Regions from separate parts of the Homo sapiens genome. Here regions 2, 3 and 4 are each linked to region 1. The links come from fine-mapping of genetic effects on gene expression. A gene starts in region 1. Each other region holds a variant in brackets. All regions are shown on one strand. Distances are between the middles of the regions.

What was found. PIP is the estimated chance that this variant, and not a neighbour inherited with it, causes the effect. A credible set is the group of variants that fine-mapping cannot tell apart.
Region 2: its variant is the best candidate, but not a certain one, in a credible set for the expression of CRCP in esophagus mucosa (GTEx, PIP 0.71).
Region 3: its variant is the best candidate, but not a certain one, in a credible set for the expression of CRCP in whole blood (INTERVAL, PIP 0.56).
Region 4: its variant is the best candidate, but not a certain one, in a credible set for the expression of CRCP in whole blood (INTERVAL, PIP 0.54).

Annotation. Positions count from the first base shown.
Region 1 is chr7:66,112,243-66,117,414 of GRCh38, reverse strand. CRCP (CGRP receptor component) reads right to left here and starts at 2,568. Exons shown (of 6, transcript NM_014478.5): 1 at 2,445-2,568. The coding sequence starts at 2,452. RefSeq lists silencers at 1,779-2,073, 3,502-3,692 and enhancers at 1,660-2,188, 2,726-2,855.
Region 2 is chr7:66,429,811-66,434,982 of GRCh38, reverse strand. It overlaps the pseudogene RABGEF1P2, the pseudogene LOC124901855 and the pseudogene GRPEL1P1. Among named protein-coding and RNA genes, the nearest start is that of LINC00174, 32 kb to the right of the region's middle. The variant T/A (reference allele first, on the strand shown) is at 2,408.
Region 3 is chr7:65,957,126-65,962,297 of GRCh38, reverse strand. It overlaps VKORC1L1 (vitamin K epoxide reductase complex subunit 1L1), which reads right to left. Exons shown (of 3, transcript NM_173517.6): 3 at 2,740-5,172. GUSB (glucuronidase beta) reads left to right here. Exons shown (of 12, transcript NM_000181.4): 12 at 1,235-1,614. The coding sequence ends at 1,401. Among named protein-coding and RNA genes, the nearest start is that of GUSB, 23 kb to the left of the region's middle. The variant G/A (reference allele first, on the strand shown) is at 2,930.
Region 4 is chr7:66,379,564-66,384,735 of GRCh38, reverse strand. It overlaps LINC00174 (long intergenic non-protein coding RNA 174), which reads left to right. Exons shown (of 5, transcript NR_026873.1): 4 at 2,305-2,499; 5 at 4,733-5,172. Among named protein-coding and RNA genes, the nearest start is that of LINC00174, 18 kb to the left of the region's middle. The variant T/C (reference allele first, on the strand shown) is at 2,111.

The DNA of each region.
Region 1 (5,172 bases):
ATCAGCACATAGATGGGTGAAATGACAGAGTGTGGAGAGAAAGGGTCCCAGGACTGAGCCCTAAGATACCACTCAACACTTAGACATCAAGCAAGAGAGGAACGGGACCCAGGGAAGGACACTGAAGTAGTCCTTGATGTAGGAGGAAATACGCAAAGGAACATACATCACAAGAAAAGGAAAGTTTCTAGAGTTTCTGTATTAACCACTGCTGAGAGATCAAGAAAGTTGAGGCCAGAAAATCAACCTCTGAATTTGACAAGATGGAGGGATCAGGTTTTTTTTTTTTTTTTTTTTGAGACAGTCTTGCCCTGTCACCTAGGCTGGAGTGCAGTGGCACAATTTGGTTCACTGCAACCCCTGCCTCCCGAGTTCAAGCGATTCTCCTGCCTCAGCCTCCTGAGTTACTGGGATTACAGGCGCCCACCACTACACCCAGTTAATTTTTGTATTTTTAGTAGAGAGGAGGTTATGCCATGTTGGCCAGGCTGGTCTCAAACTCCTGACCTCAGGGGATTCGCCCACTTCGGCCTCCTAAAGTGCTGCGATTATAGGCATGAGCCACCACGCCCCGCTGGTTCAGGTAATCTTAACAGTCATTCCCGTAGACCAGTGAGGATGAAAGCCCAACAGAATGGCTGAGAGAATGAGGGGCTAATCAGCACTTTCAAGAAGTTTTGTTGGGATGGGAAGCAGAAATGGAGTAAGAGGGGGACATGTATGTGGGGACGGAGGATTTTCTAAGATGAATTCTCTAAAGCAGGGTTGTATGCTCACAGGAAATGCTCTAGTAAAGAGGGAAAAATTAGTAATGATGGCTTGGACTAGAGTAAATTATATGAATAGTTTTTTAGGTTGCAGATGAAATCCCATCAGTGGGTTGCAAAATTAATTCAGTGGTTCAATTTTTTTTTTTTTTTTTTTTTAAGACAGAGCCTTACACTGTCACTCTGGCAGGAGTGTAGTGGCTCTATCTCAGCTCATTGCAGCCTCCTGGGATCAAGTGATCCTCCCATCTCAGCCTCGTAAGTAGCTGAGACTACAGGCATGAACCACCACACCCAGCTAACTTCTTAATTTTTTGCAGAGACAGGGTCTCCCTATGTTGCCCAGGCTGGTCTCCACCTCCCAGGTTCAAGTGATCCTTCTGCCTAAGCTTCCCAAAGTGCTGGGATTGCTGGTGTGAGCCACCACGGTTGGCCCCATTCATATTAATAAAAAATAGACAATATGAGAGTGTACGCCACACATTATTGTTTCATGAGCCTTTCATTTCAGTTACACAGACATATTGTGTTTAAAAAAAAATCGGAAGAGGCCAGGTGAAGTGGCTCACGCCTGCAATCCCAGGACTTTGGGAGTACAAAGCAGGAGGATCACTTGAGCTCAGGAGCTGGAGACCAGCCTGGGCTGTAGTGAGACCCTGCATCTACAAAACTTTTTTTAAAAAATTAGCGGTGAGTGATGGCGTGGGCCTGTAGTCCCAGCTACTGAAGAGGCTGAAGCAGGATTGCTTGAGTCCAGAAAGTGAGGCTGCAGTGAACCATGATTACACCCCGCCTGGGGGACAGAGCAAGACCCTGTTTCTTAAGAAAAAACAATTAATTAAAAATGTAAAAATGTGAAATGCCATAGTACATATAACCATTAAACATGAGGCAAAAGAACATAAAGGAAACTGTATCAAATAATCAGTTCAAAGAGAACACAAGATAGTAATACCTACAAATTAATATCAACCGTATAAAGCCCACATTCAGAGTAGATGCAAAATCTTCCATTTGCACCAGGCGCAACGAGCAAGCATGGAAAAGACCACGTGGAGTTAAACTGTCAGAAAATCTTTTACCCTCGCCTTGCACACACACCCACACACCCCCTGCTGTTTCTCTGGTCCCAGTCCTGGTTCACGTCCTTCCCTTCTCCACCCCAAAACCAGCCCCTTCCCTCACAGTGTTTACTGCTCCCATCAAATTCCGAGGGCAGCTCTTCCGAGGGCTCTCCAGGGGCCTACAGCTGCAAGCAGAGCTCTACCCGGCCCTGATTCGTCTCTCCTCCACCTACTTTCAGGGCGGACAGACTCAGGCCTTTATAGCCTTCTAAGTCCGGGGTCGGATACCAGACTGGGCTCCACCCCCGCACTGTGACCCAGAAACGCTGGTAAACGAATGAGAGAAGGAGGGGGCACATTGAAAGGCAGCCGGACACGGAAGTGCTCGGCCCCGCACCAGACACGGCGTGGAGGGGAAGCGAAGGTTCGGAAGGGCAAAGCGAGAGTCCCGTTCGTCCCCGTCACCACCCCGCGGCCCTCCCGGACAGGGCCGGCCCGCTGCCCTCACTCCCGTACGAGGGTCGCCCAGTCCCCACGGCTCTCGGCTCTCAGCTCTCAGCGGTCAAACCGTTGGGCTCCTCGGGCGAAAAGGGACGCGCCCGAGAAGACTTACACTTCCATGACGTCCCGCCTCGTCGCCCCTAGCTGCCAGCAGACAAAGAACCTCACACTTCACAGCTGTCTCCGCCGCCACCAACAGCGCCAAGGTGCCAGCTCCGCGCGCCAAGGTGCTCGCCGGGATCGCCGCGCTGCATGCCGGGAGCTTGGCGGACCCGGAACCTCGCGCTGCGCGTTCCCCTTTTTCGGGGGGCAGGGTGGGGGAGTGTCCCTGCATCCTTCCACCAGGCCGATTTAAGACTGCTAAGCGTTTGCGGACAGGATTATCTTGTGTTTTCTTTTCTTTTTTTCTTTAACCTTTTTTTTTTTTTGAGACGGAGTCTCGCTCTGTCGCCCAGGCTGGATCTCGGCTTACTGCAACCTCCGCCTCCTGGGTTCAAGCGATTCTCCTTCTGCCTCAGCCTCCCAAGTAGCTGGGACTACAGGCGCTTGCCACCAAGCCCGGCTAATTTTTTGTGTTTTTAGTAGAGACGGGGTTTCACCGTGTTAGCCAGGATGGTTTCAATCTCCTGACCTCGTGATCCGCCCGCCTCGGCCTCCCAAAGTCCTGGGATTACAGGCGTGAGGCACCGTGCCCAGCCTCTTTTTTTCTTTTTTGAGACAGAGTCTCGCTCTGTCACCCAGGCTGGAGTGCAGTGGCACGATCTCGGCTCACTGCAATCTCTGCCTCCCAGGTTCAAGCAATTCCCTGCCTCAGCCTCCCGAGTAGCTGGGATTACAGGCGCCCGCCATAACGCCTAGCTAATTTGTGTATTTTTTAGTAGAGACGGGGTTTCATCATCTTGGCCAGGCTAGTCTTGAACTCCTGACCTCGTGATCCACCCGCTTCGGCCTCCCAAAGTGTTGGGATTACAGGCGTGAGCCACCTCGCCGGGCTCTGTCTGTTTTCGTGGTCTAGGTTTTAACAAAGTATTAATCAGCTGAAGTTGTGAGACGTGATCGGGTTAGTGGGCCTTTGCATGTTAAAATCCCACCTCTCAGAGAGTAGTGAGGCTGGTGGCATCTGGGCTGCCAGAAACATTGCAGTTTATTTATTTATTTTTTAAGAGACAGGGTCTTGCTCTGTCGCCCAGGCTGGAATGCAGTGGTGCAATCAGAGCTCACTGCAGCCTTGAACTCCTGGGCTCAAGCAATCCTCCCACCCCAGCCTGCCAGAGTAGCTGGGACCACAGGTGCGCTCCGCTACACCTGGCTAATTTTCTTTTTTTCTTTTTCTTTTTCTTTTTTTTTTTTTTTGAGATCAGTCTCACTCTGTTGCCCAGGCTGGAGTGCAGTGTCGTGATCTCGGCTCATTGCAACCTCTGCCTCCTGGATTCAAGCAGTTCCCTGCCTCAGCCTCCCCAGTAGCTAGGATTACAGGTGCCCGCCATAATGCCCAGCTAATTTTTGTATTTTTTTAGTAGAGACGGGGTTTCACCATCTTGGCCAAGCTGGTCTTGAACTCCTGACCTTGTGATCCACCCTCATCAGCCTCCCAAAGTGTTGGGATTACAGGCGTGAGCCACTGCACCCAGCCACCTGGCTAATTTTCTAAAATAAAATTCTTTATTGTCCAAAGAGTCAGCTACAAAATTTTTTAATTTTTTTGTAGAGATGGGGGTCTCACTGTGTTGCCCAGGCTGGTCTTGAACTCCTCGCCTCAAGTGATCCTCCCACCTCCAACTCCCAAAGTGCTGGGATTACAGGTGTGAACCACCACAATAGCCTCTGTTGCCTACTTTGTAAATAATAAGGGTGTTAAATAATCCTTATAAAGTTCCTGGCACTTTATTAATTACTGTGGCAATACAACCATGACTCTCTATGAGGTACATTGCATTATTATTGACATTTTATAATTGAAGAAACTGAGGCAGACTTGGAGAGATTATGATTTACCAAAAGTCACTCATCTAGGAAGTTGTCCAGTGGGTATTGAACCCCAGCCAATCTGAACATATACAACAGATGCATTAACTAGAGACTGATGAGTGGATGAATAAAATGTGCTACATTTGTGCAATGGAAAACTACTTAAAAAGGAGGCTGGCCGGGCACGGTGGCTCACGCCTGTAATCCCAGCACTTTGGGAGGCCGAGGCGGGCAGATCACGATGTCAGGAGATCGAGACCATCCTGGCTAACAGGGTGAAACCCCGTCTCTACTAAAAATACAAAAAAAATTAGCCGGGCGTGGTGGTGGGCGCCTGTAGTCCCAGCTACTAGGGAGGCTGAGGCAGGAGAATGGCGTGAACCCAGAAGGCAGAGCTTGCAGTGAGCCAAGATCGTGCCACTGCACTCCAGCCTGGAAGACAGGGCAAGACTCTGTCTCAAAAATATAAAAATAAAAAGGAGGCCAGGCTTGATCTCAGCACTTTGGGGAGCAGAGGCAGGAGGATTTCTTGAGACAAGGAGTTCCAGAGCAGCCTGGGCAACATAGCTAGACCCCCTAACTACGAAAAGTTAGCCAGGTGTGGTGGTGAGCACCTCTAGTCCCAGCTACTGGGGAGGCTGAGGTAGGAGAATCGCTTGAGCCAGAAGGTAGAGGCTGCAGGGAACTATGATCACACCACTGCACTCCAGCCTACAGAGTGAGAGACCTTGTTGCAAAAAATATATATAGACAGACTGATAGATAAATGCTGCAAGATGGATAACCTCCCAAAACATGATGCTATTAATAAGTGAAAGAAGCCAGACACAAAATAATATATATTGCCTGGCCAGGTGGCTCACGCCTGTAAT
Region 2 (5,172 bases), 320 kb before region 1:
CATGGAAGAAGTCAAGTTAGAAGAGCAACTGAAGGAGGTTGTGGAAGAAGATAAGCAAGCATTGGCAGATACTGAGGGCTTGCAGCAGAGCAGCCAAAAATTGGTGGAGGAGGCAAATATGTGTAGCATTCAGGGCTTCTGCAAGGACTCGTTAGAGGTTGCAGATGTTTTGGAGAAGGCAACACAGTGTGTTCCAGAAGAAGAAATTAAAGACAATAACCATCACCTGAAGAACCTCTGTGAAACTCTCACAATGAGTGAAGGTCAGATTCAGGAAGTGTTCAGCAAGCACCACCAAGCTGAACCCTGTCAGAGCCAAGTTCCACCGTTATGTGCATGAGGGTCTTTTTTTTGTCTTTCTTCACATCCGACAGGCAATGTGCCAGTGCTGTAACAAGGTTTGAGCAAGGCATATCTCACACATGAAAACCCAGTGTGAAAACCTAGTCATCACACTCCCAGTGCTTTGGGAGGCTGAGGCAGGTGGATCACTTGAGGTCAAGAGTTACAGACCAGCCTGGCCCACATGGCGAAACTCTGTGTCTACTAAAAATACAAAAATTAGCCAGGCGTGGTGGCGTACGCCTGTAGTCCCAGCTACTCGGAGACTGAGGCAGGGGAATTGCTTTAACCTGGGAGGCGGAGGTTTCAGTGAGCCAAGTTTGCACCACCGCACTCCAGCCTGGGCAACAGAGTGAGACTCCGTCTCAAAAAAAAAAAAATACTTTGCAGGTCAGTATAAACACTTAAAATATCATTTGAATCACTGTGTTACATTATTTATTATAGAAAAAGAGGGAAACAAATATACCATATGTTTTTTTTTTGTGTGAGGGGGTAAAAAGCAAGAATTTGTGAAGCGGGGATGTTTCCAAATCCAGCAGAGTTTTTAATATATTCTAAAATGAAAGTCATCACACCTAGATGAGATTTGGGTAAAAAATGAAAATACGGAACAGTGAAATCAGCCAGAGATTTCAGAAATAGATTTAATTTCTCAGGAGCAAGTTACATGACACCTGGAGGACGAGGGGGAACAAGGTTGTGCTTTACTAACTGCTGATGGTGATGACAGATACACTTGTATAGAGTTTTAGTTCTGTTTCATACCATGCACCTTACATTCCAGCCAAATCAAAGAGCTAAACATGAAAAAATTGAGAAGAAAGTAGATTAGGATATGAGCTGGGTATGGTGGCTCATGCCTATAATCCCATCACTTTGGGAGGCCAAGGCAGCCAGATGAGTAGAGGCTAGGAGTTTCAGACCAGCCTGGTCAACATGGGGAAACTCCATCACTACTAAAAATACAAAAACTGGAGTTTGAGACCAGCCTGGTCAACATGGGGAAACTCCATCACTACTAAAAATACAAAAATTATCTGAGCGTTGTAGCAGGTGCCTGTAATCCTAGCTACTCAGGAGGCTGAGGCAGGAGAATCACTTGAACCCGGAGGTGGAGGTTGCACTGAGCCAAGATCACACCATTGCACTCCAGCCTGAGCAAGAGAGCAAGACTGTCTCAAAAAAATAAAAAAATAAAATATTAGCTTGGGCGTGGTGGTTCATGCTTGTAATTCCAGCTACTTGGGAGGCTGAGGCAGGAGAATCGCTTGAACCAGGGAGGCAGAGGTTACAATGAGATCACACCACTGCAGCCTGTGTGAGAGAGCGAGACTCCATCTCGGGGAAAAAAAAAAAAGAAAAAAATATATGAACGGTACCTTAGGATACGTATTTCAGCTGTAGAGAGGAGCAAAAATTGAACCATCAAAAAATTGTTTTACCTGGGCACGGTGGCTCACACCTGTAATCCTAGCACTTTTAGAGGTCAAGGCAGGAGGATCACTTAAGCCCAGGAGTTTGAGACGAGACTGGGCAACATAGTGAGACCTTGTTTCTATATATTAAAAAAAAAAAAAAAGAGAAATAAAATTAAAAACTTACAAGAAATTTGTTTGTTTTTGAGACAGAGTGTTGCTCTGCCGCCCAGGCTGGAGTGCAATGGCATGATCTTGGCTGACTGCAACCTCCACCTCCCGGGTTCAAGCAATTCTCCTGCCTCAGCCTCCCAAGTATCTGGATTACAGGTGTGCAGTAGCATGCCCAGCTAATTTTTGTATTTTTAGTAGAGACGGGTTTTGCCATGTTGGCCAGGCTGGTCTTGAACTCCTGACCTAAGGTGATCCGTCCGCCTCGGCCTCCCAAAGTGCTGGGATTACAGGCGTGAGCCACTGCACCCAGCCAAAAGAATTGTTTTTAATGACCAGATAAAAGGCTTAATAGTATTAACTTTTTAAAAATCTGTGCAATAAAAAATAAAACATGGGAAGTCATGAATATAAATAAGAGCTTCATATAGTGAAATATCTAAACTTTACTAAAGGTAGCACCTAGGCTTTTATAG[T/A]TGAGGGATCAATTTTAATTCAACCAAATGGCATGTATATGGGTAACTAGTTGACAGTGATTAGGGCTGCAGTCAAGGTGATCCCATGACTTGTGATCACCATGATCACATGTGTGCTTGAGTGCTTGGCCATTTTCACTGAGGGAATGAGGTGACTGCCCCTGACCCCCAGTGTCCTGCCTTCCTTTTAGAGTTAAGCCAGATGGTCGACTGCTGCAGGCTTCCACAGGATGTATCGGTGCTTGGCGTGTGAGGTCAGTGGCCTGTGTAGATGAGGTCTGTGACAGCCAGTCCTGGGGGTTTGTTCTCAGCCTTATTCATGTTCTTCTACTGTGACATCCTTGTGAGAACCATTGGGAGAAATTTTTGATTTTGGTGTCAGAATTTCACCTGAAGAATTTGTTTGCTTTCATCTTTTTTTTTTTTAAGTTTTTTTTTCTTTTATTATTATACTTTAAGTTTTAGGGTACATGTGCACATTGTGCAGGTTAGTTACATATGTATACATGTGCCATGCTGGTGCGCTGCACCCACTAACTTGTCATCTAGCATTAGGTATATCTCCCAATGCTATCCCTCCCCCCTCCCCCCACCCCACAACAGTCCCCAGAGTGTGATGTTCCCCTTCCTGTGTCCATGTGATCTCATTGTTCAATTCCCACCTATGAGTGAGAATATGCAGTGTTTGGTTTTTTGTTCTTGCGATAGTTTACTGAGAATGATGATTTCCAATTTCATCCATGTCCCTACAAAGGACATGAACTCATCAAACTGCATCAACTAACGAGCAAAATAACCAGCTAACATCATAATGACAGGATCAAATTCACACATAACAATATTAACTTTAAATGTAAATGGACTAAATGCTCCAATTAAAAAACACCATGCTTTCATCTTTTGAACCCTGAATTACGTAACTGTTTTCATCTTAATGATGATTGCTAAGAAGTTTAGTTAGAGACAGATGTATGGGCTGACTCTTGACTAATTTAGACATCTTCCAGGAAAACATTTCTGTCTTGTCATTTAGGTCTCTCTCCATGTGTGATTTTTTTTTTTTTTTTTTTTTTTGAGATGGAGTCTCTCTGTGTTGCCCAGGCTGGAGTGCAGTGGTGCAATCTCGGCTCACTGCAAGCTCCGCCTCCCAGGTTTACACCATTCTCCCACCTCAGCCCCCTGAGTAGCTGGGACTACAGGTGCCCGCCACCACACCCGGATACTTTTGTTTTTGTATTTTTCGTATAGACTGAGTTTCACCATGTTGGCCAGGATGGTCTCCATCTCCTGACCTTGTGATCTGCCCACCTTGGCCTCCCAAAGTGTTGGGATTACAGACGTGAGCCACCAAGCCCGGCCTAAAATTTTAAAAAAATTTTTAAAATTATCTTTCTTTTCTTTTCTTTTCCTTTTCTTTTCTTTTCTTTCTTGAGATGGGTTCTCACTATGTTGCCCAGGCTGGTCTCAAACTCCTAGGCTCAATCGATCCTCTAGCTGCAGCCTCCCAGAGCACTGGGATTACAGTTATTTGTTACTCTTTTTATTTTCTAGTCCGTTGTGCTGAACTGCATTTATCTTTTAAATAGACTTTAAATATTCTTTGGCAGAAAGTGAGGAATAAATGCATATATTCTATGTATAAAATCAGTAAAACCAAATACAAATTATCAAGCCCACTGTTGTAAGGGCCATAGGGAAATAAGCGCATACACGTGGTTAATGACAGTGTGCACTGAGTTTCCGAGGAGTGTGGCTAGCAATAGATACTTAGTGCTGTAACGGTGTTTATTCTTATTAAGTGGTTAATGCCACTTTTGGAAATGTATCACAGAGAATTTAACTCAGAAGAAGATAGTCCTTACAAAATTATTTATTGCTACAGTGCACAACAATGAAAGAGGGGAAGCAACCCAAATGCACAGCGGTAGAGGAGAGTTGAATAAGTCAGTTAATATAATGCAATGCTATAAAGCCACCAAAAATGTTTGGTGGGTTAGATAAATAGAAGTGTCCATAAAATATGTAAATTATCAAAACATGCATTAAATCTATTTAAGAGTATGTAGATATAGCAAAAAGAATGAGATGGTCATGGTGAGACACCACTAGGTAGGAAGGGGTCCCCAGAAAAACTCCAGCTGGCCTGTGCACTGGGGTGGAACTTGAAGTTTGCACCGTTGATAGCGGGGAGGAGCCTGGCACCTCTTCTTACTGTGTAAAACCCATTATTCTAGCTGCTGGCAGAAAGCACTCTAGCAGGGACTCTGGCCTTGTGAGAGTCCCAATAAAACCCTGCCTTACTCACCATTCAAACCGTCTGTAAGCCTAAATTTTTGTGGCCTTGAGACGGACAAGGACCCCGTCCTTAGCTGAACTAAGGAAAAATCCTGCAACAGTGGATACTGGAAATAATGTTAATGGATGGGTTTTACTCTCCTGAAGGATTAATATAATCTGTGAGTACTTTTATGCTTACTGCCAGTACAAGGAGTGGCTTACTTACTATCAGTACAAGGAGTATATATACTCTCTTGAGCTTTTCTGTTTGGCTATTTCAGTGCCTCCAGAATGAGTTGAGAAGATAAATGGATCAGATTGAAAAGTACATCATGACTCATCTCTATAAATATGTGTTCTGTCCAGAAACTACTGATGATGAGATGAAAGATCTTGCCATTCAAAAGAGGATCAGGTAGTTGCTTATTTTGTTTTGCTTTATGCTTACTACCTACTGATGGAAGAACATATTGGGGGAAAATAAGGCA
Region 3 (5,172 bases), 160 kb after region 1:
CTCCACCAGGCTCAGCTCAGGCCTAATGACCACCAGTGGTGGGTGCTGCCAAGCTGGACGTCAGCCCCGGCGGACTTTGAACTCCATGAGTAGGTCCCACGCAGGGACCTGTGGCTGGTCAGGACCCTGGCTCCCACTAGGCGCTATCTCTTCAGAAAGGCCCAAGGCTTTTCAAGGGTAACTGTCCCAGATACCCCTAGCCCTCTGCCTACCCAGTTACCAGACAGCTGGGTACCCAGCATGTAAACCTTAGTTTGCAAATAAAAGATAAACTTTTAGTGCTTTTTTTTTTTTTGGAGATGGAGTCTCACTCTGTCGCCCAGGCTGGAGTGCAGTGGCACAATCTCAGCTCACTGCAACCTCTGCGTCCTGGGTTCAAGCGATTCTCCTGCCCCAGCCTCCTGAGTAGCTGGGACCACAGGCACCCACCACCATGCCTGTATAATTTTTGTATTTTTAGTAGAGATGAGGTTTCACCATATTGTCCAGGCTGGTCTTAATCTCCTGACCTTGTGATCCGCCTGCTTTGTCCTCCCAGAGTGCTGGGATTACAGGCATGAGCCAATGTGCCCAGCCAGTTTTTGTATTTTTAATAGAGGCGGGTTTCCTCATGTTGGCCAGGCTGATCTTGAACTCCTGACCTCAGGTGATCCACCTGCCTCAGCCTCCCAAAGCACTGGGATTACAGGCGTTGGCCACCACACCTGGCCACTGTTTTGGGTTTTTTTCCCCTAACAGACTAGAAAACTAGAAATTAACACACCAGGGAACCTGGGTGTTTGGGCAGAGCAGTGGTATTTAAATATTTCAACCCATAAATTGTCACTTCAGAGCAAGCATCCTGAAACTGTAAGAGGACATTTGGCTGAGCATGGTGGCTTGTGCTTATAATCCCAGCACTTTAGGGAGGCTAAGGAGGGCAGATTGCTTGAGCCCAGTAGTTTGAGACCAGCCTGGACAACATAATGAGACCTTGTCTTTACTAAAAAATAAAAATAAAAGATTACCGGGCATGGTGGTGCTGGAGAGGCTGAGGCAGGAGGATTGCCTGAGCCCAGGAGGTTGAGGCTGCAGTGAGCTATGATTGTGTCACCGCATTCCAGCCTGGGCAACAGGGAGAAAAAAGAAAAAAAAAGACATTTCTATTTAGTGCCTACCTTAGCTCCAGACTGGTTCTAACTTGACCCATCAGAAGACATCTGAATCGCTTTGTGTCTTTTTTTTTTTTTTGTAGCACCGACGAGAGTGCTGGGGAATAAAAAGGGGATCTTCACTCGGCAGAGACAACCAAAAAGTGCAGCGTTCCTTTTGCGAGAGAGATACTGGAAGATTGCCAATGAAACCAGGTATCCCCACTCAGTAGCCAAGTCACAATGTTTGGAAAACAGCCTGTTTACTTGAGCAAGACTGATACCACCTGCGTGTCCCTTCCTCCCCGAGTCAGGGCGACTTCCACAGCAGCAGAACAAGTGCCTCCTGGACTGTTCACGGCAGACCAGAACGTTTCTGGCCTGGGTTTTGTGGTCATCTATTCTAGCAGGGAACACTAAAGGTGGAAATAAAAGATTTTCTATTATGGAAATAAAGAGTTGGCATGAAAGTGGCTACTGAAAAGCATCTGAAATCATTTCTGTGCGTCGTGCTGTTTTCAGAGCTTTAACTGTGTGTGGACTTTTGAGAAACTGCTGCTCCAACACCCCCACCACGTTCAGAGCAGCTGGTTCCCGAGGGCGTCTGCAGGAATAGCCCCATGGTCCTAGGGCCACCGTGTTTGTGTAGCAAACCAGGCCAGCCTCGACAGGGAGTGAGTAGAAGACTTTCACAGCTGCTGTTCGACTCCTCAGATGAGCTAAAGTCCCACATGTACCAACAAATTCATAGAAACGCTGTCATTGTTGCAGCACTTAACAGGGTCTGTGTGCCAGTTTCTACATAGTTAAGCTGGCAGTGTCTGAATTGGAAGGTTAGAGGTAACTGGTTCTCCCAGAACATTGTTTTGACCTCAGCCATAGGGTCTTGACAGAAATGGACAGATGAGTGTAAAAGCCTATTGGCTTTATCATAACGGATGCCACTGAATGTGACAGGACCTCCTTAAACAACTTTGCCTACAAATCAGCATTCCATGCCTTTACACCCCAAAATGACGCTACCTGCCCCCTCCCAGAGCACAGTCTTTCCTTAAGGAATCTGTCCTCCCTCTCTTCCTGGGCTCCAGTAAGGCAAGGATGGTGCATCAATTCTGATTTGAAGTATACGCTTTGGAAAAATACTCCTTTTGGTGTCCAGTCAGTTGAAAGACAATGAACCAATACAGTTTGTTTTGTTTGTTTTGAGACAGTCTTGCTCCGTCGCCCAGGCTGGAGTGCAGTGGCGCAATCTTGGCTCACTGCAACCTCCACCTCTGGGGTTCAAGCAATTCTCCTGCCTCATCCTCCCAAGTAGGTGGAACTACAGGCATCTGCCACCATTCCCAGCTAAATTTTTAAAAATATTTTTAGTAGAGATGGGGTTTCACCATGTTGGCCAGGCTGGTTTCGAACTCTTGACCTCAGGTGATCTGCTCGCCTCAGCCTCCCCAGGTGCTGGGATTATAGGCGTGAGCCACTGTGCCCGGCCTCCAATATGGTTCTTGCTATAGAACTTGATTTTCCCCTCTCTTGTGGTTGAGCCCCGTGTCTCCACACAGACCCTCCTTTTTAGCTTTCCTGTGCAAGCTCCATGAAAGAAAGAATAAAGTTAATTTCATGTGGTTTTATTAGGCATCGTCCATTTTTTAAAAATGAGTGTAGTCAGTTCCAATTAGGAATCTAGAGCTTCTGTATTTTTTTTATCAACTTCTCTTTAGTTTTTCAAAGGAATCAAGTTTTGTGTTCCAGTATGTCAAAGTATAATGAATAAAACTTTTAGTTGACAAACATTAAGAAAA[G/A]TTAAATGTAATAGACACATTTAAATGGTTTACAAATTAGGGGCAGTCCATTGTTTTTTTTCTTGAGCTGGAGTCTTCCTCTGTCGCCTAGGCTGCAGTGCAGTGGCGTGATCTCGTCTCACTGCAACCTCCGCCTCCCTGGTTCAAGCAATTCTCCTGCCTCAGCTTCCTGAATAGCTGGGATTACAGGCGCACACCACAATCCTGGCTAATTTTTCTGTATTTTTCAGTAGAGGCAGGTTTCACCATGTTGGCCAGGCTGGTCTTGAACTCCTGACCTCAAGTGATCCACCCGCCTCTACCTCCCAAAGTGCTGGGATTACAGGCATGAGCCATTGCACCCAGTGGGGGCAGTCCCTTTCCACAGGTCTTGAGCTCCAGCACAGAACACACTTGTTCTATTCCGTGAAGTATGGCTCAGCTGTATTTCCAACGGATTCATCTTTCTTGCCGATGCTACCTTTTTAGAGGATTATACAGGGAGTATTCAAGGTAAGCTAAAGTAAAACTATGGAAAAACAGCTCATTAATACATTCTGAGTGTTCACAGAACTGTAGGCAGTGACACATTTTTGTCATTAATTCTTGACAATCACATACACCGTAAACCTACAGGAATTCCAAGAACTAGAGGTCTGAGGACTCTGAATCTTCTGCAAGTTACATATGATTTAAGAGAAAAAGAATCAACCCTGTATACCTTAGAAATGAGGTTACAGTATTGACTTCAAGAATATAAGGCTCCTACTGAGTCTAAAAAGACTTCGTTTCAGTTCTTTTGGAATGCAACCCTGCAGTTTAAGAATAATGGGAGCACAACTTCCACAGGTAACTTCTACATTTATTTTATACCAAAAAAGTTATGTGCAACAAATAAACATTCTTACATATTTACATTTGGTTTTATTTACCAGTTAGCAAAACAGTGCCTTAAATCTCTGATAAAGAGTATTTCTATCTAGATTAAAGGGGAAACCTGCCCAGTGAACTCCATTTTAAATGACTGTTTACTCTGGAGCTTAAAGCACTAGTAAGAAATATTTCTGATGGAACATACTACACAGATCATATACCTAATAAATACTTAGGCCATGCTTAATACAGTTTTATAACAAAATATTTCACCTTTTCTGGGCGAATTTGTAGTAAAAAATGTTTAACCAAGTAGCCGGGGCTCCCACCCTTGCCCTTTTTGTTTGATGGAAGGGTAGTTCTCACAATTAGAAACCATAAGTGCTGCCTGAGGTGTCTGAAATGTTTCACCCATGACTGTGTGTTAGAGAAAAAGACACGAGGACAGAAATTGCATATTAGGTCATTAGGTCTTTTTCCCCAAATAGGTTACCAGAAATCACAGTGGGTCTCCTTGTTGGCATCTAATAATGATCTTCCAAGACAAGATCTCCTGTCACTCTTGGTACCAATCTAAGTTGTGAAGTAATTGCTGAAGATAACTCTGTACTTTTGCAAATAGTCTTTTCCAAAACTAAATGAAAAACAAAAGTCAACAAATAGTTTTTATTTTTATTTTTTTATTTGAGACAGAGTTTCACTCATTGCCCAGGCTGGAGTGCAATGGCGCAACTGTGGCTCACTGCAACCTCCACCTACTGGGTTCAAGCAATTCTCCTGCCTCAGCCTCTGGAGGAGCTGGCATTACAGGTGCCGCCACCATGCCCAGCTAATTTTTGTATTTTTAGTAAAGACAGGGTTCCACTATGTCGGTCAGGCTGATCTCGAACTTCTGACCTCAGGTGATCCAACCGCCTCGGCCTCCCAAAGTGCTGGGATTACAGGTGTGAGCCACCATGCCCAGCCAGCAAACAGTTTTAATTTCACTGTAGTCTTGGTCCTCTTTGAATGCAGTCTCTCTCTTTTTTTTTTGGGGGGGGGACAGTCTCGCTCTGTTGGCCAGGCTGGAGTGCAGTGGCATGATCTTGACTCACTGCAACCTCTGTCTCCCGGGCTCAAGCAATTCTCCTCCCTCAGCCTCCCGAGTAGCTGGGATTACAGGGGTGTGCCACTGCGCCTGGCTAATTTTTGTATTTTTAGTAGAGATGGGGTTTCACTATGCTGGCCAGGCTGGTCTTGAACTCCTGACCTTAGGTAATCCACCCGCCTCGGCCTCCCAAAGTGCTGGGATTATAGGCGTGAGCCACCGTGCCCGGCCGAATGTAGTTTCTTTGAATGAAAATAGTCAATGCTTTGAACATCATTTGAAAGTAATGAATTTAAGGAGAGGA
Region 4 (5,172 bases), 270 kb before region 1:
TGGGAATGAAGAGACCCCTGCCCAGTATTGCTGCCTGACTAATCAGTGTTTTAAAAAATATATGAATCTGTTGGGAGGCCGAGGCGGGCGGATCACGAGGTCAGGAGATCTAGACCATCCTGGCTAACACGGTGAAACCCTATCTCTACTAAAAATACAAAAAAATCAACCGGGCGTGGCAGTGGGCACCTGTAGTCCCAGCTGCTGGGGAGGCTGAGGCAGGAGAATGGTATGAACCTGGGAGATGGAGCTTGCAGTGAGCCGAGATTGTGCCACTGCACTCCAGCCTGGGGAACAGAGCGAGACTCTGTCTCAAAAAATATATATATATATAAATAAATATATATGTAAATATATATAATGTATAAAAATATATGTAAATATATTAATATATAAATATACATGCAAATATATATTAATATGTATGTAAACATTAATGTATATGTAAATATATATTAATATATGTAATATATATAATTATATATATTAATCAGTGTGGGCACAATGGCTTACGCCTGTAATCCCAGCACTTTGGGTGACCGAGGTGATCACCTGAGGTCAGGTGATCACCTGAGGTCAGGATTTCGAGACCAGCCTGGCCAACATGGCTAAACCACATCTCTACTAAAAAAACATAAAAATTAGCCAGCCATGTTGGTGGGCACCTGTAATGCCAGCTACTTGGGAAGCTGAGCCAGGAGAATTGCTTGAACCCAGGTGGCGGAGGTTGCAGTGAGTCAAGATCGTGCCACTTCACTCCAGCGTGCGTAAGTCAGACTTTGTTTCCCCCCCAAAAAAAAGTACTACTTACGTCAACTTGTAATGGTTTTATTATTCATGTGTAATGAATGTATATTTTAAAAATTTGTCCTGTACTATATCAACATGAAATGGTTTTATTATTAATATGTAATGAATAATATTTTAAAATTTGTCTTATTTTCTAATTTTAATATAATTATTTATATAAAGAAAAAGGCTTAAGAGATCTTCAATAGAGTTAAAAAATGTAAAGGGATGCTAGACCCAAAAAGATTGGGAACATGTAGTTTAGACATATTCAGAGTAAGCCACGTACAACTTGCTACTTTACCTATTTTCTTTCCTTTTTTTGTTTTGTTTTGTTTTAGAAGATGGGGTCTCCTCTGCAACCCAGGCTGGAGTACAGTGGTGCAATCACAGCTCACTGTAGCCTTGAACTCCTAGGCTAAGGCTCCTCCTGCCTCAGCCTCCTGAGTAGCTGGGACTGTAGTTATATATGATGACACCTGGCTATTCTTTAAATTGTTTTGTAGACATGGGGTCTCACTTTGTTGGCCAGGCTGGTGTCAAACTCCTGGCCTCAAGTGACCCTTCTACCCCTGCCTCCCATCCTAGAGGTATGAGCCACCACAACAAGCACTTGTTCGATTTTCTAAAAAACAAATTTCCAAATTAAGGCTGTGGGATGATGGCCAGAAGATAAAGTAGAAAAACAGAATAATAGGCCGGGCGCGGTGGCTCACGCCTGTAATCCCAGCACTTTGGGAGGCCGAGGTGGGTGGATCGCGAGGTCAGAGTTCGAGACCAGCCTGGCCAACATGTTGAAACCCCGTCTCGACTAAAGATACAAAAAAATTTAGCCAGGCGTGGTGGCACGTGCCTGTAATCCCAGCTACTCGGGAGGCTGAGGCAGGAGAATCGCTAGAACCTGGGAGGTGGAGGTTGCAGTGAGCTGAGATCGTGCCATTGCACTCCAGCCTGGGTGACAGGGCAAGACTCTATCTCTAAAAAAGAAAAACAGAAGAATAAATTCTAATGACTTACACATATTCTTTTGACAGCAAGAAGAACTTTTAGTAAATACATTCCTTACAAACAAACAGAAGGCAAATAAACACTGTTGTACAGGAACTTCAACACACACTGTACAATATTCCCACTTTGCTGATGTCAGTTATGGAAATTCTTCATGGTTTACTTGACTATCGCTATCAGTATTTTGCATCTCTCATCATTTTTGTCAACTTCCTCATCTGCTAACTTCTCTCCAAGGTATGTCATATTGTGACATACTGCTGCTGCACGAACATGGCCAGTGTCATCCTATTAAACATGTAGAATCCTTCCC[T/C]AATTTGTTTTTTTACCCTCTGTCTCTTTGTTTTGCATTTTTCTTACCCTTATTGTCAGAAACTCCAGAAAGTCAATCGTAGTGATTTATCACCAATTGCTCCATTAATTTATACTTTGCTTACATGGAATTTTGCCCAACAGACATCATTACAATTTCTAACCTTTTTTTTTTTTTTTTTTTTTTTTCCTGAGACAGGGTCTTGCTCTGTTGTCCAGGCTGGAGTGCGGTAGTGCTATCACAGCTGACTGCATCCTCAACCTCTCAGGCTCAAGCAGTCCTCCCACCTCAGCCTCCCAGGTGGCTGAGACTGTACGTGCTTGCCACAATGCCCAACTAATAATTTGGACTTTTCCTATACATGGGTTCCAAAGGGCTGACTGCGAAACGTGAGTATGCATGGATTTTGGTATATGCAGAGATGGGGGGCTGGAACGAATCCTTTCTGTATACTGACGGACGACCATATATGTTTTTACACTTATGCTGTACGACACATATTGTTCCATAGCCTTGAAAATAGTAATTTTTAATGACAAATAATTTTGAATTTAGTGGTATAATATAAAAGCAGCTGACCAGGTGTGGTGGCTCACACCGGTAATCACAACACTTTGGGAGGTTGAAGCAGGAGGATGGCTCAAGGCCAAGAGTTTGAGACAGGTCTCAGAAATCAAGGGAATCACCATCCCTACAGAAATATACATGAATTAGCCTAGTGTGGTGGCATGTTCTTGTAGTCCCAGCTACTTGGGAGGCTGAGGTGGGAGGATCACTTGAGCCCAGGGAGGCTTAGACTGCAGTGAGTCATGATCAGGCCTCTGCACTCCAGCCTGAGTGACAGAGTGACCCCATCTCAAAACAACAAAAAAGTAGCAGCTAACATTAACTGTCCTTCTACCAGGTGCCTATAAATACCATAGATAGTTTAATTTCTTTTTTTTTTTTTTTTTTTGAGACGGAGTCTCGCTCTGTCACCCAGGCTGGAGTGCAGTGGCGCAGTCTCGGCTCACTGCAAGCTCCGCCTCCCGGGTTCACGCCATTCTCCTGCCTCAGCCTCTCCGAGTAGCTGGGACTACAGGCGCCCGCCACCACGCCCGGCTAATTTTTTTTTATTTTTAGTAGGGACGGGGTTTCACCGTGGTCTCGATCTCCTGACCTCGTGATCCACCCGCCTCGGCCTCCCAAAGTGCTGGGATTACAAGCGTGAGCCACCGCGCCCGGCCAGATAGTTTAATTTCTTATAACTGTTTCTTATTTCACTTAACCACTCTGTCTTCAGTTACTACCAGATTTTCACTGTGTTTGTGCAGATGACCTTTTGTTTAGGTTCAGTTGTCTTGCAAGGTATTTCCAGAAGAAAGATTACAGTGAGTCATGGTGAATGGACATTCTCATTGTCCTTGATGTAAATTGACAAGGTTTTGGGTGCCTCGCAGGTATAATCCCAGCACTTTGGGAGGCCAAGGCAGGAGGATTGCTTGACCCCAGGATTTGGAGGAGACAGTAGGGTGAGACAGTGTCTCTATTATTAAAAAAATTGCTGGTCAGGTGTGGTGGCTCACGCCTGTAATCCCAACACTTTGGGAGGCTGAGGTGGGTGGATCACCTGAGTTCTGGCTTGCGATAACCAGCCTGACCAACATGGAGAAACCCTGTCTCTACTAAAAATACAAAATTAGCTGGGTGTGGTGGCACACACATGTGATCCCAGCTACTCAGAGGCTGAGGCAGGAGAATCACTTGAACCCAGGAGGTGGAGGTTGTGGTGAGCCGACATCGCACCATTGCACTCCAGCCTGGGCAACAAGAGTGAAACTCCATCTCAAAAAAAAATAAATAAATAAATAAACAATTGGAAGCTTTACCGTGAAAGGCTTACATACAATTTAAACACCCCTCATTGTATAAGAAAGTGCCCATTTCACTGCATCTTTGCCAGCACAGGGTATTATAATTTAATAAGTTATTTTTTGTTTTATGATTTTATTATTACTTTATTTGTCACATTTCAACATCTTATACATTATTAGCCCTATTTCTTTTCTGTGTGTAAATAGTTGTTTTGTTCTTTGAGACAGGGTCTTGCTTTGTCACCCAGGCTTGACTATAGTGCCATAATCATGACTCACTGTAGCCTTGACCTCACAGGCTCAAACTACCCTCCTACTTCAGCTTCCCGAGTAGCTGGGATTATGAGTATGCACCACCACACGCAGCTAATTTTTTTCTTTTTTTGGATAGAGACAGGGTGTTGCCCAGGCTGGTCTCTACCTCCTGGCCTCAAGCAATCCTCCTGCATTGGCTTCTTAAATTACTGGCATGAGCCACCATGCCTTACTTTGGCTAGTCCTATATTCTCTAGAATTCTCTTTACTTTGTGCTAGCCAATCTCTCATGCTGTTCCCCTGTTATAATGAATAATTATCTATATTAAATTTTAGCACTTTGGGCTTTTGAGTGGTTTATGTCTCCTGATTGGACCCTGACTAATACAGAGTTGATGCTGGGAAGGGTCCCAGGAGACAGACCCACACAGATGGGATTTGGGGATCAGTTTGGTTATCTTAGGGGCCGTGCTGAGCTCCTTGCAATGGGAAATGGGATGCTGTTGATTTCCAGGAAGTGACCTCACAATGACTCAAGCTACCACTTAGTGTTGATTGTGATGAAATGCCAGCTGTGGCATATGCCTTGGGAGCTAAGTGGCTGCTGCACTTGACCACTATGAAGACTGGTGTGGAAGGGTCCTTCTGGATGTACTTGGGCAGGGTCCCCAACGCCAGAGCCATGGAACTGTAAGGAGCCACACAGCCGGAGGTGAATGGTGTTGAATGAGGGAAGCTTCATCTGTGTTTACAGCCACTCCCCATTGCTCACATTCCTGCCTGAGCTCTGCCTTCTCTCAGATCAGCAGCAGCATTAGATTCTCATAGGAGCATGCACCCCATTGTGAACCATGCATGTGAGGGATCTACGTTGCGCTGTCCCTATGAGAATCTAATGCCTGATGCTCTGTCACTTTCTCCAATATTATCTTCAAGTGAGCCACTCCTGGCCCA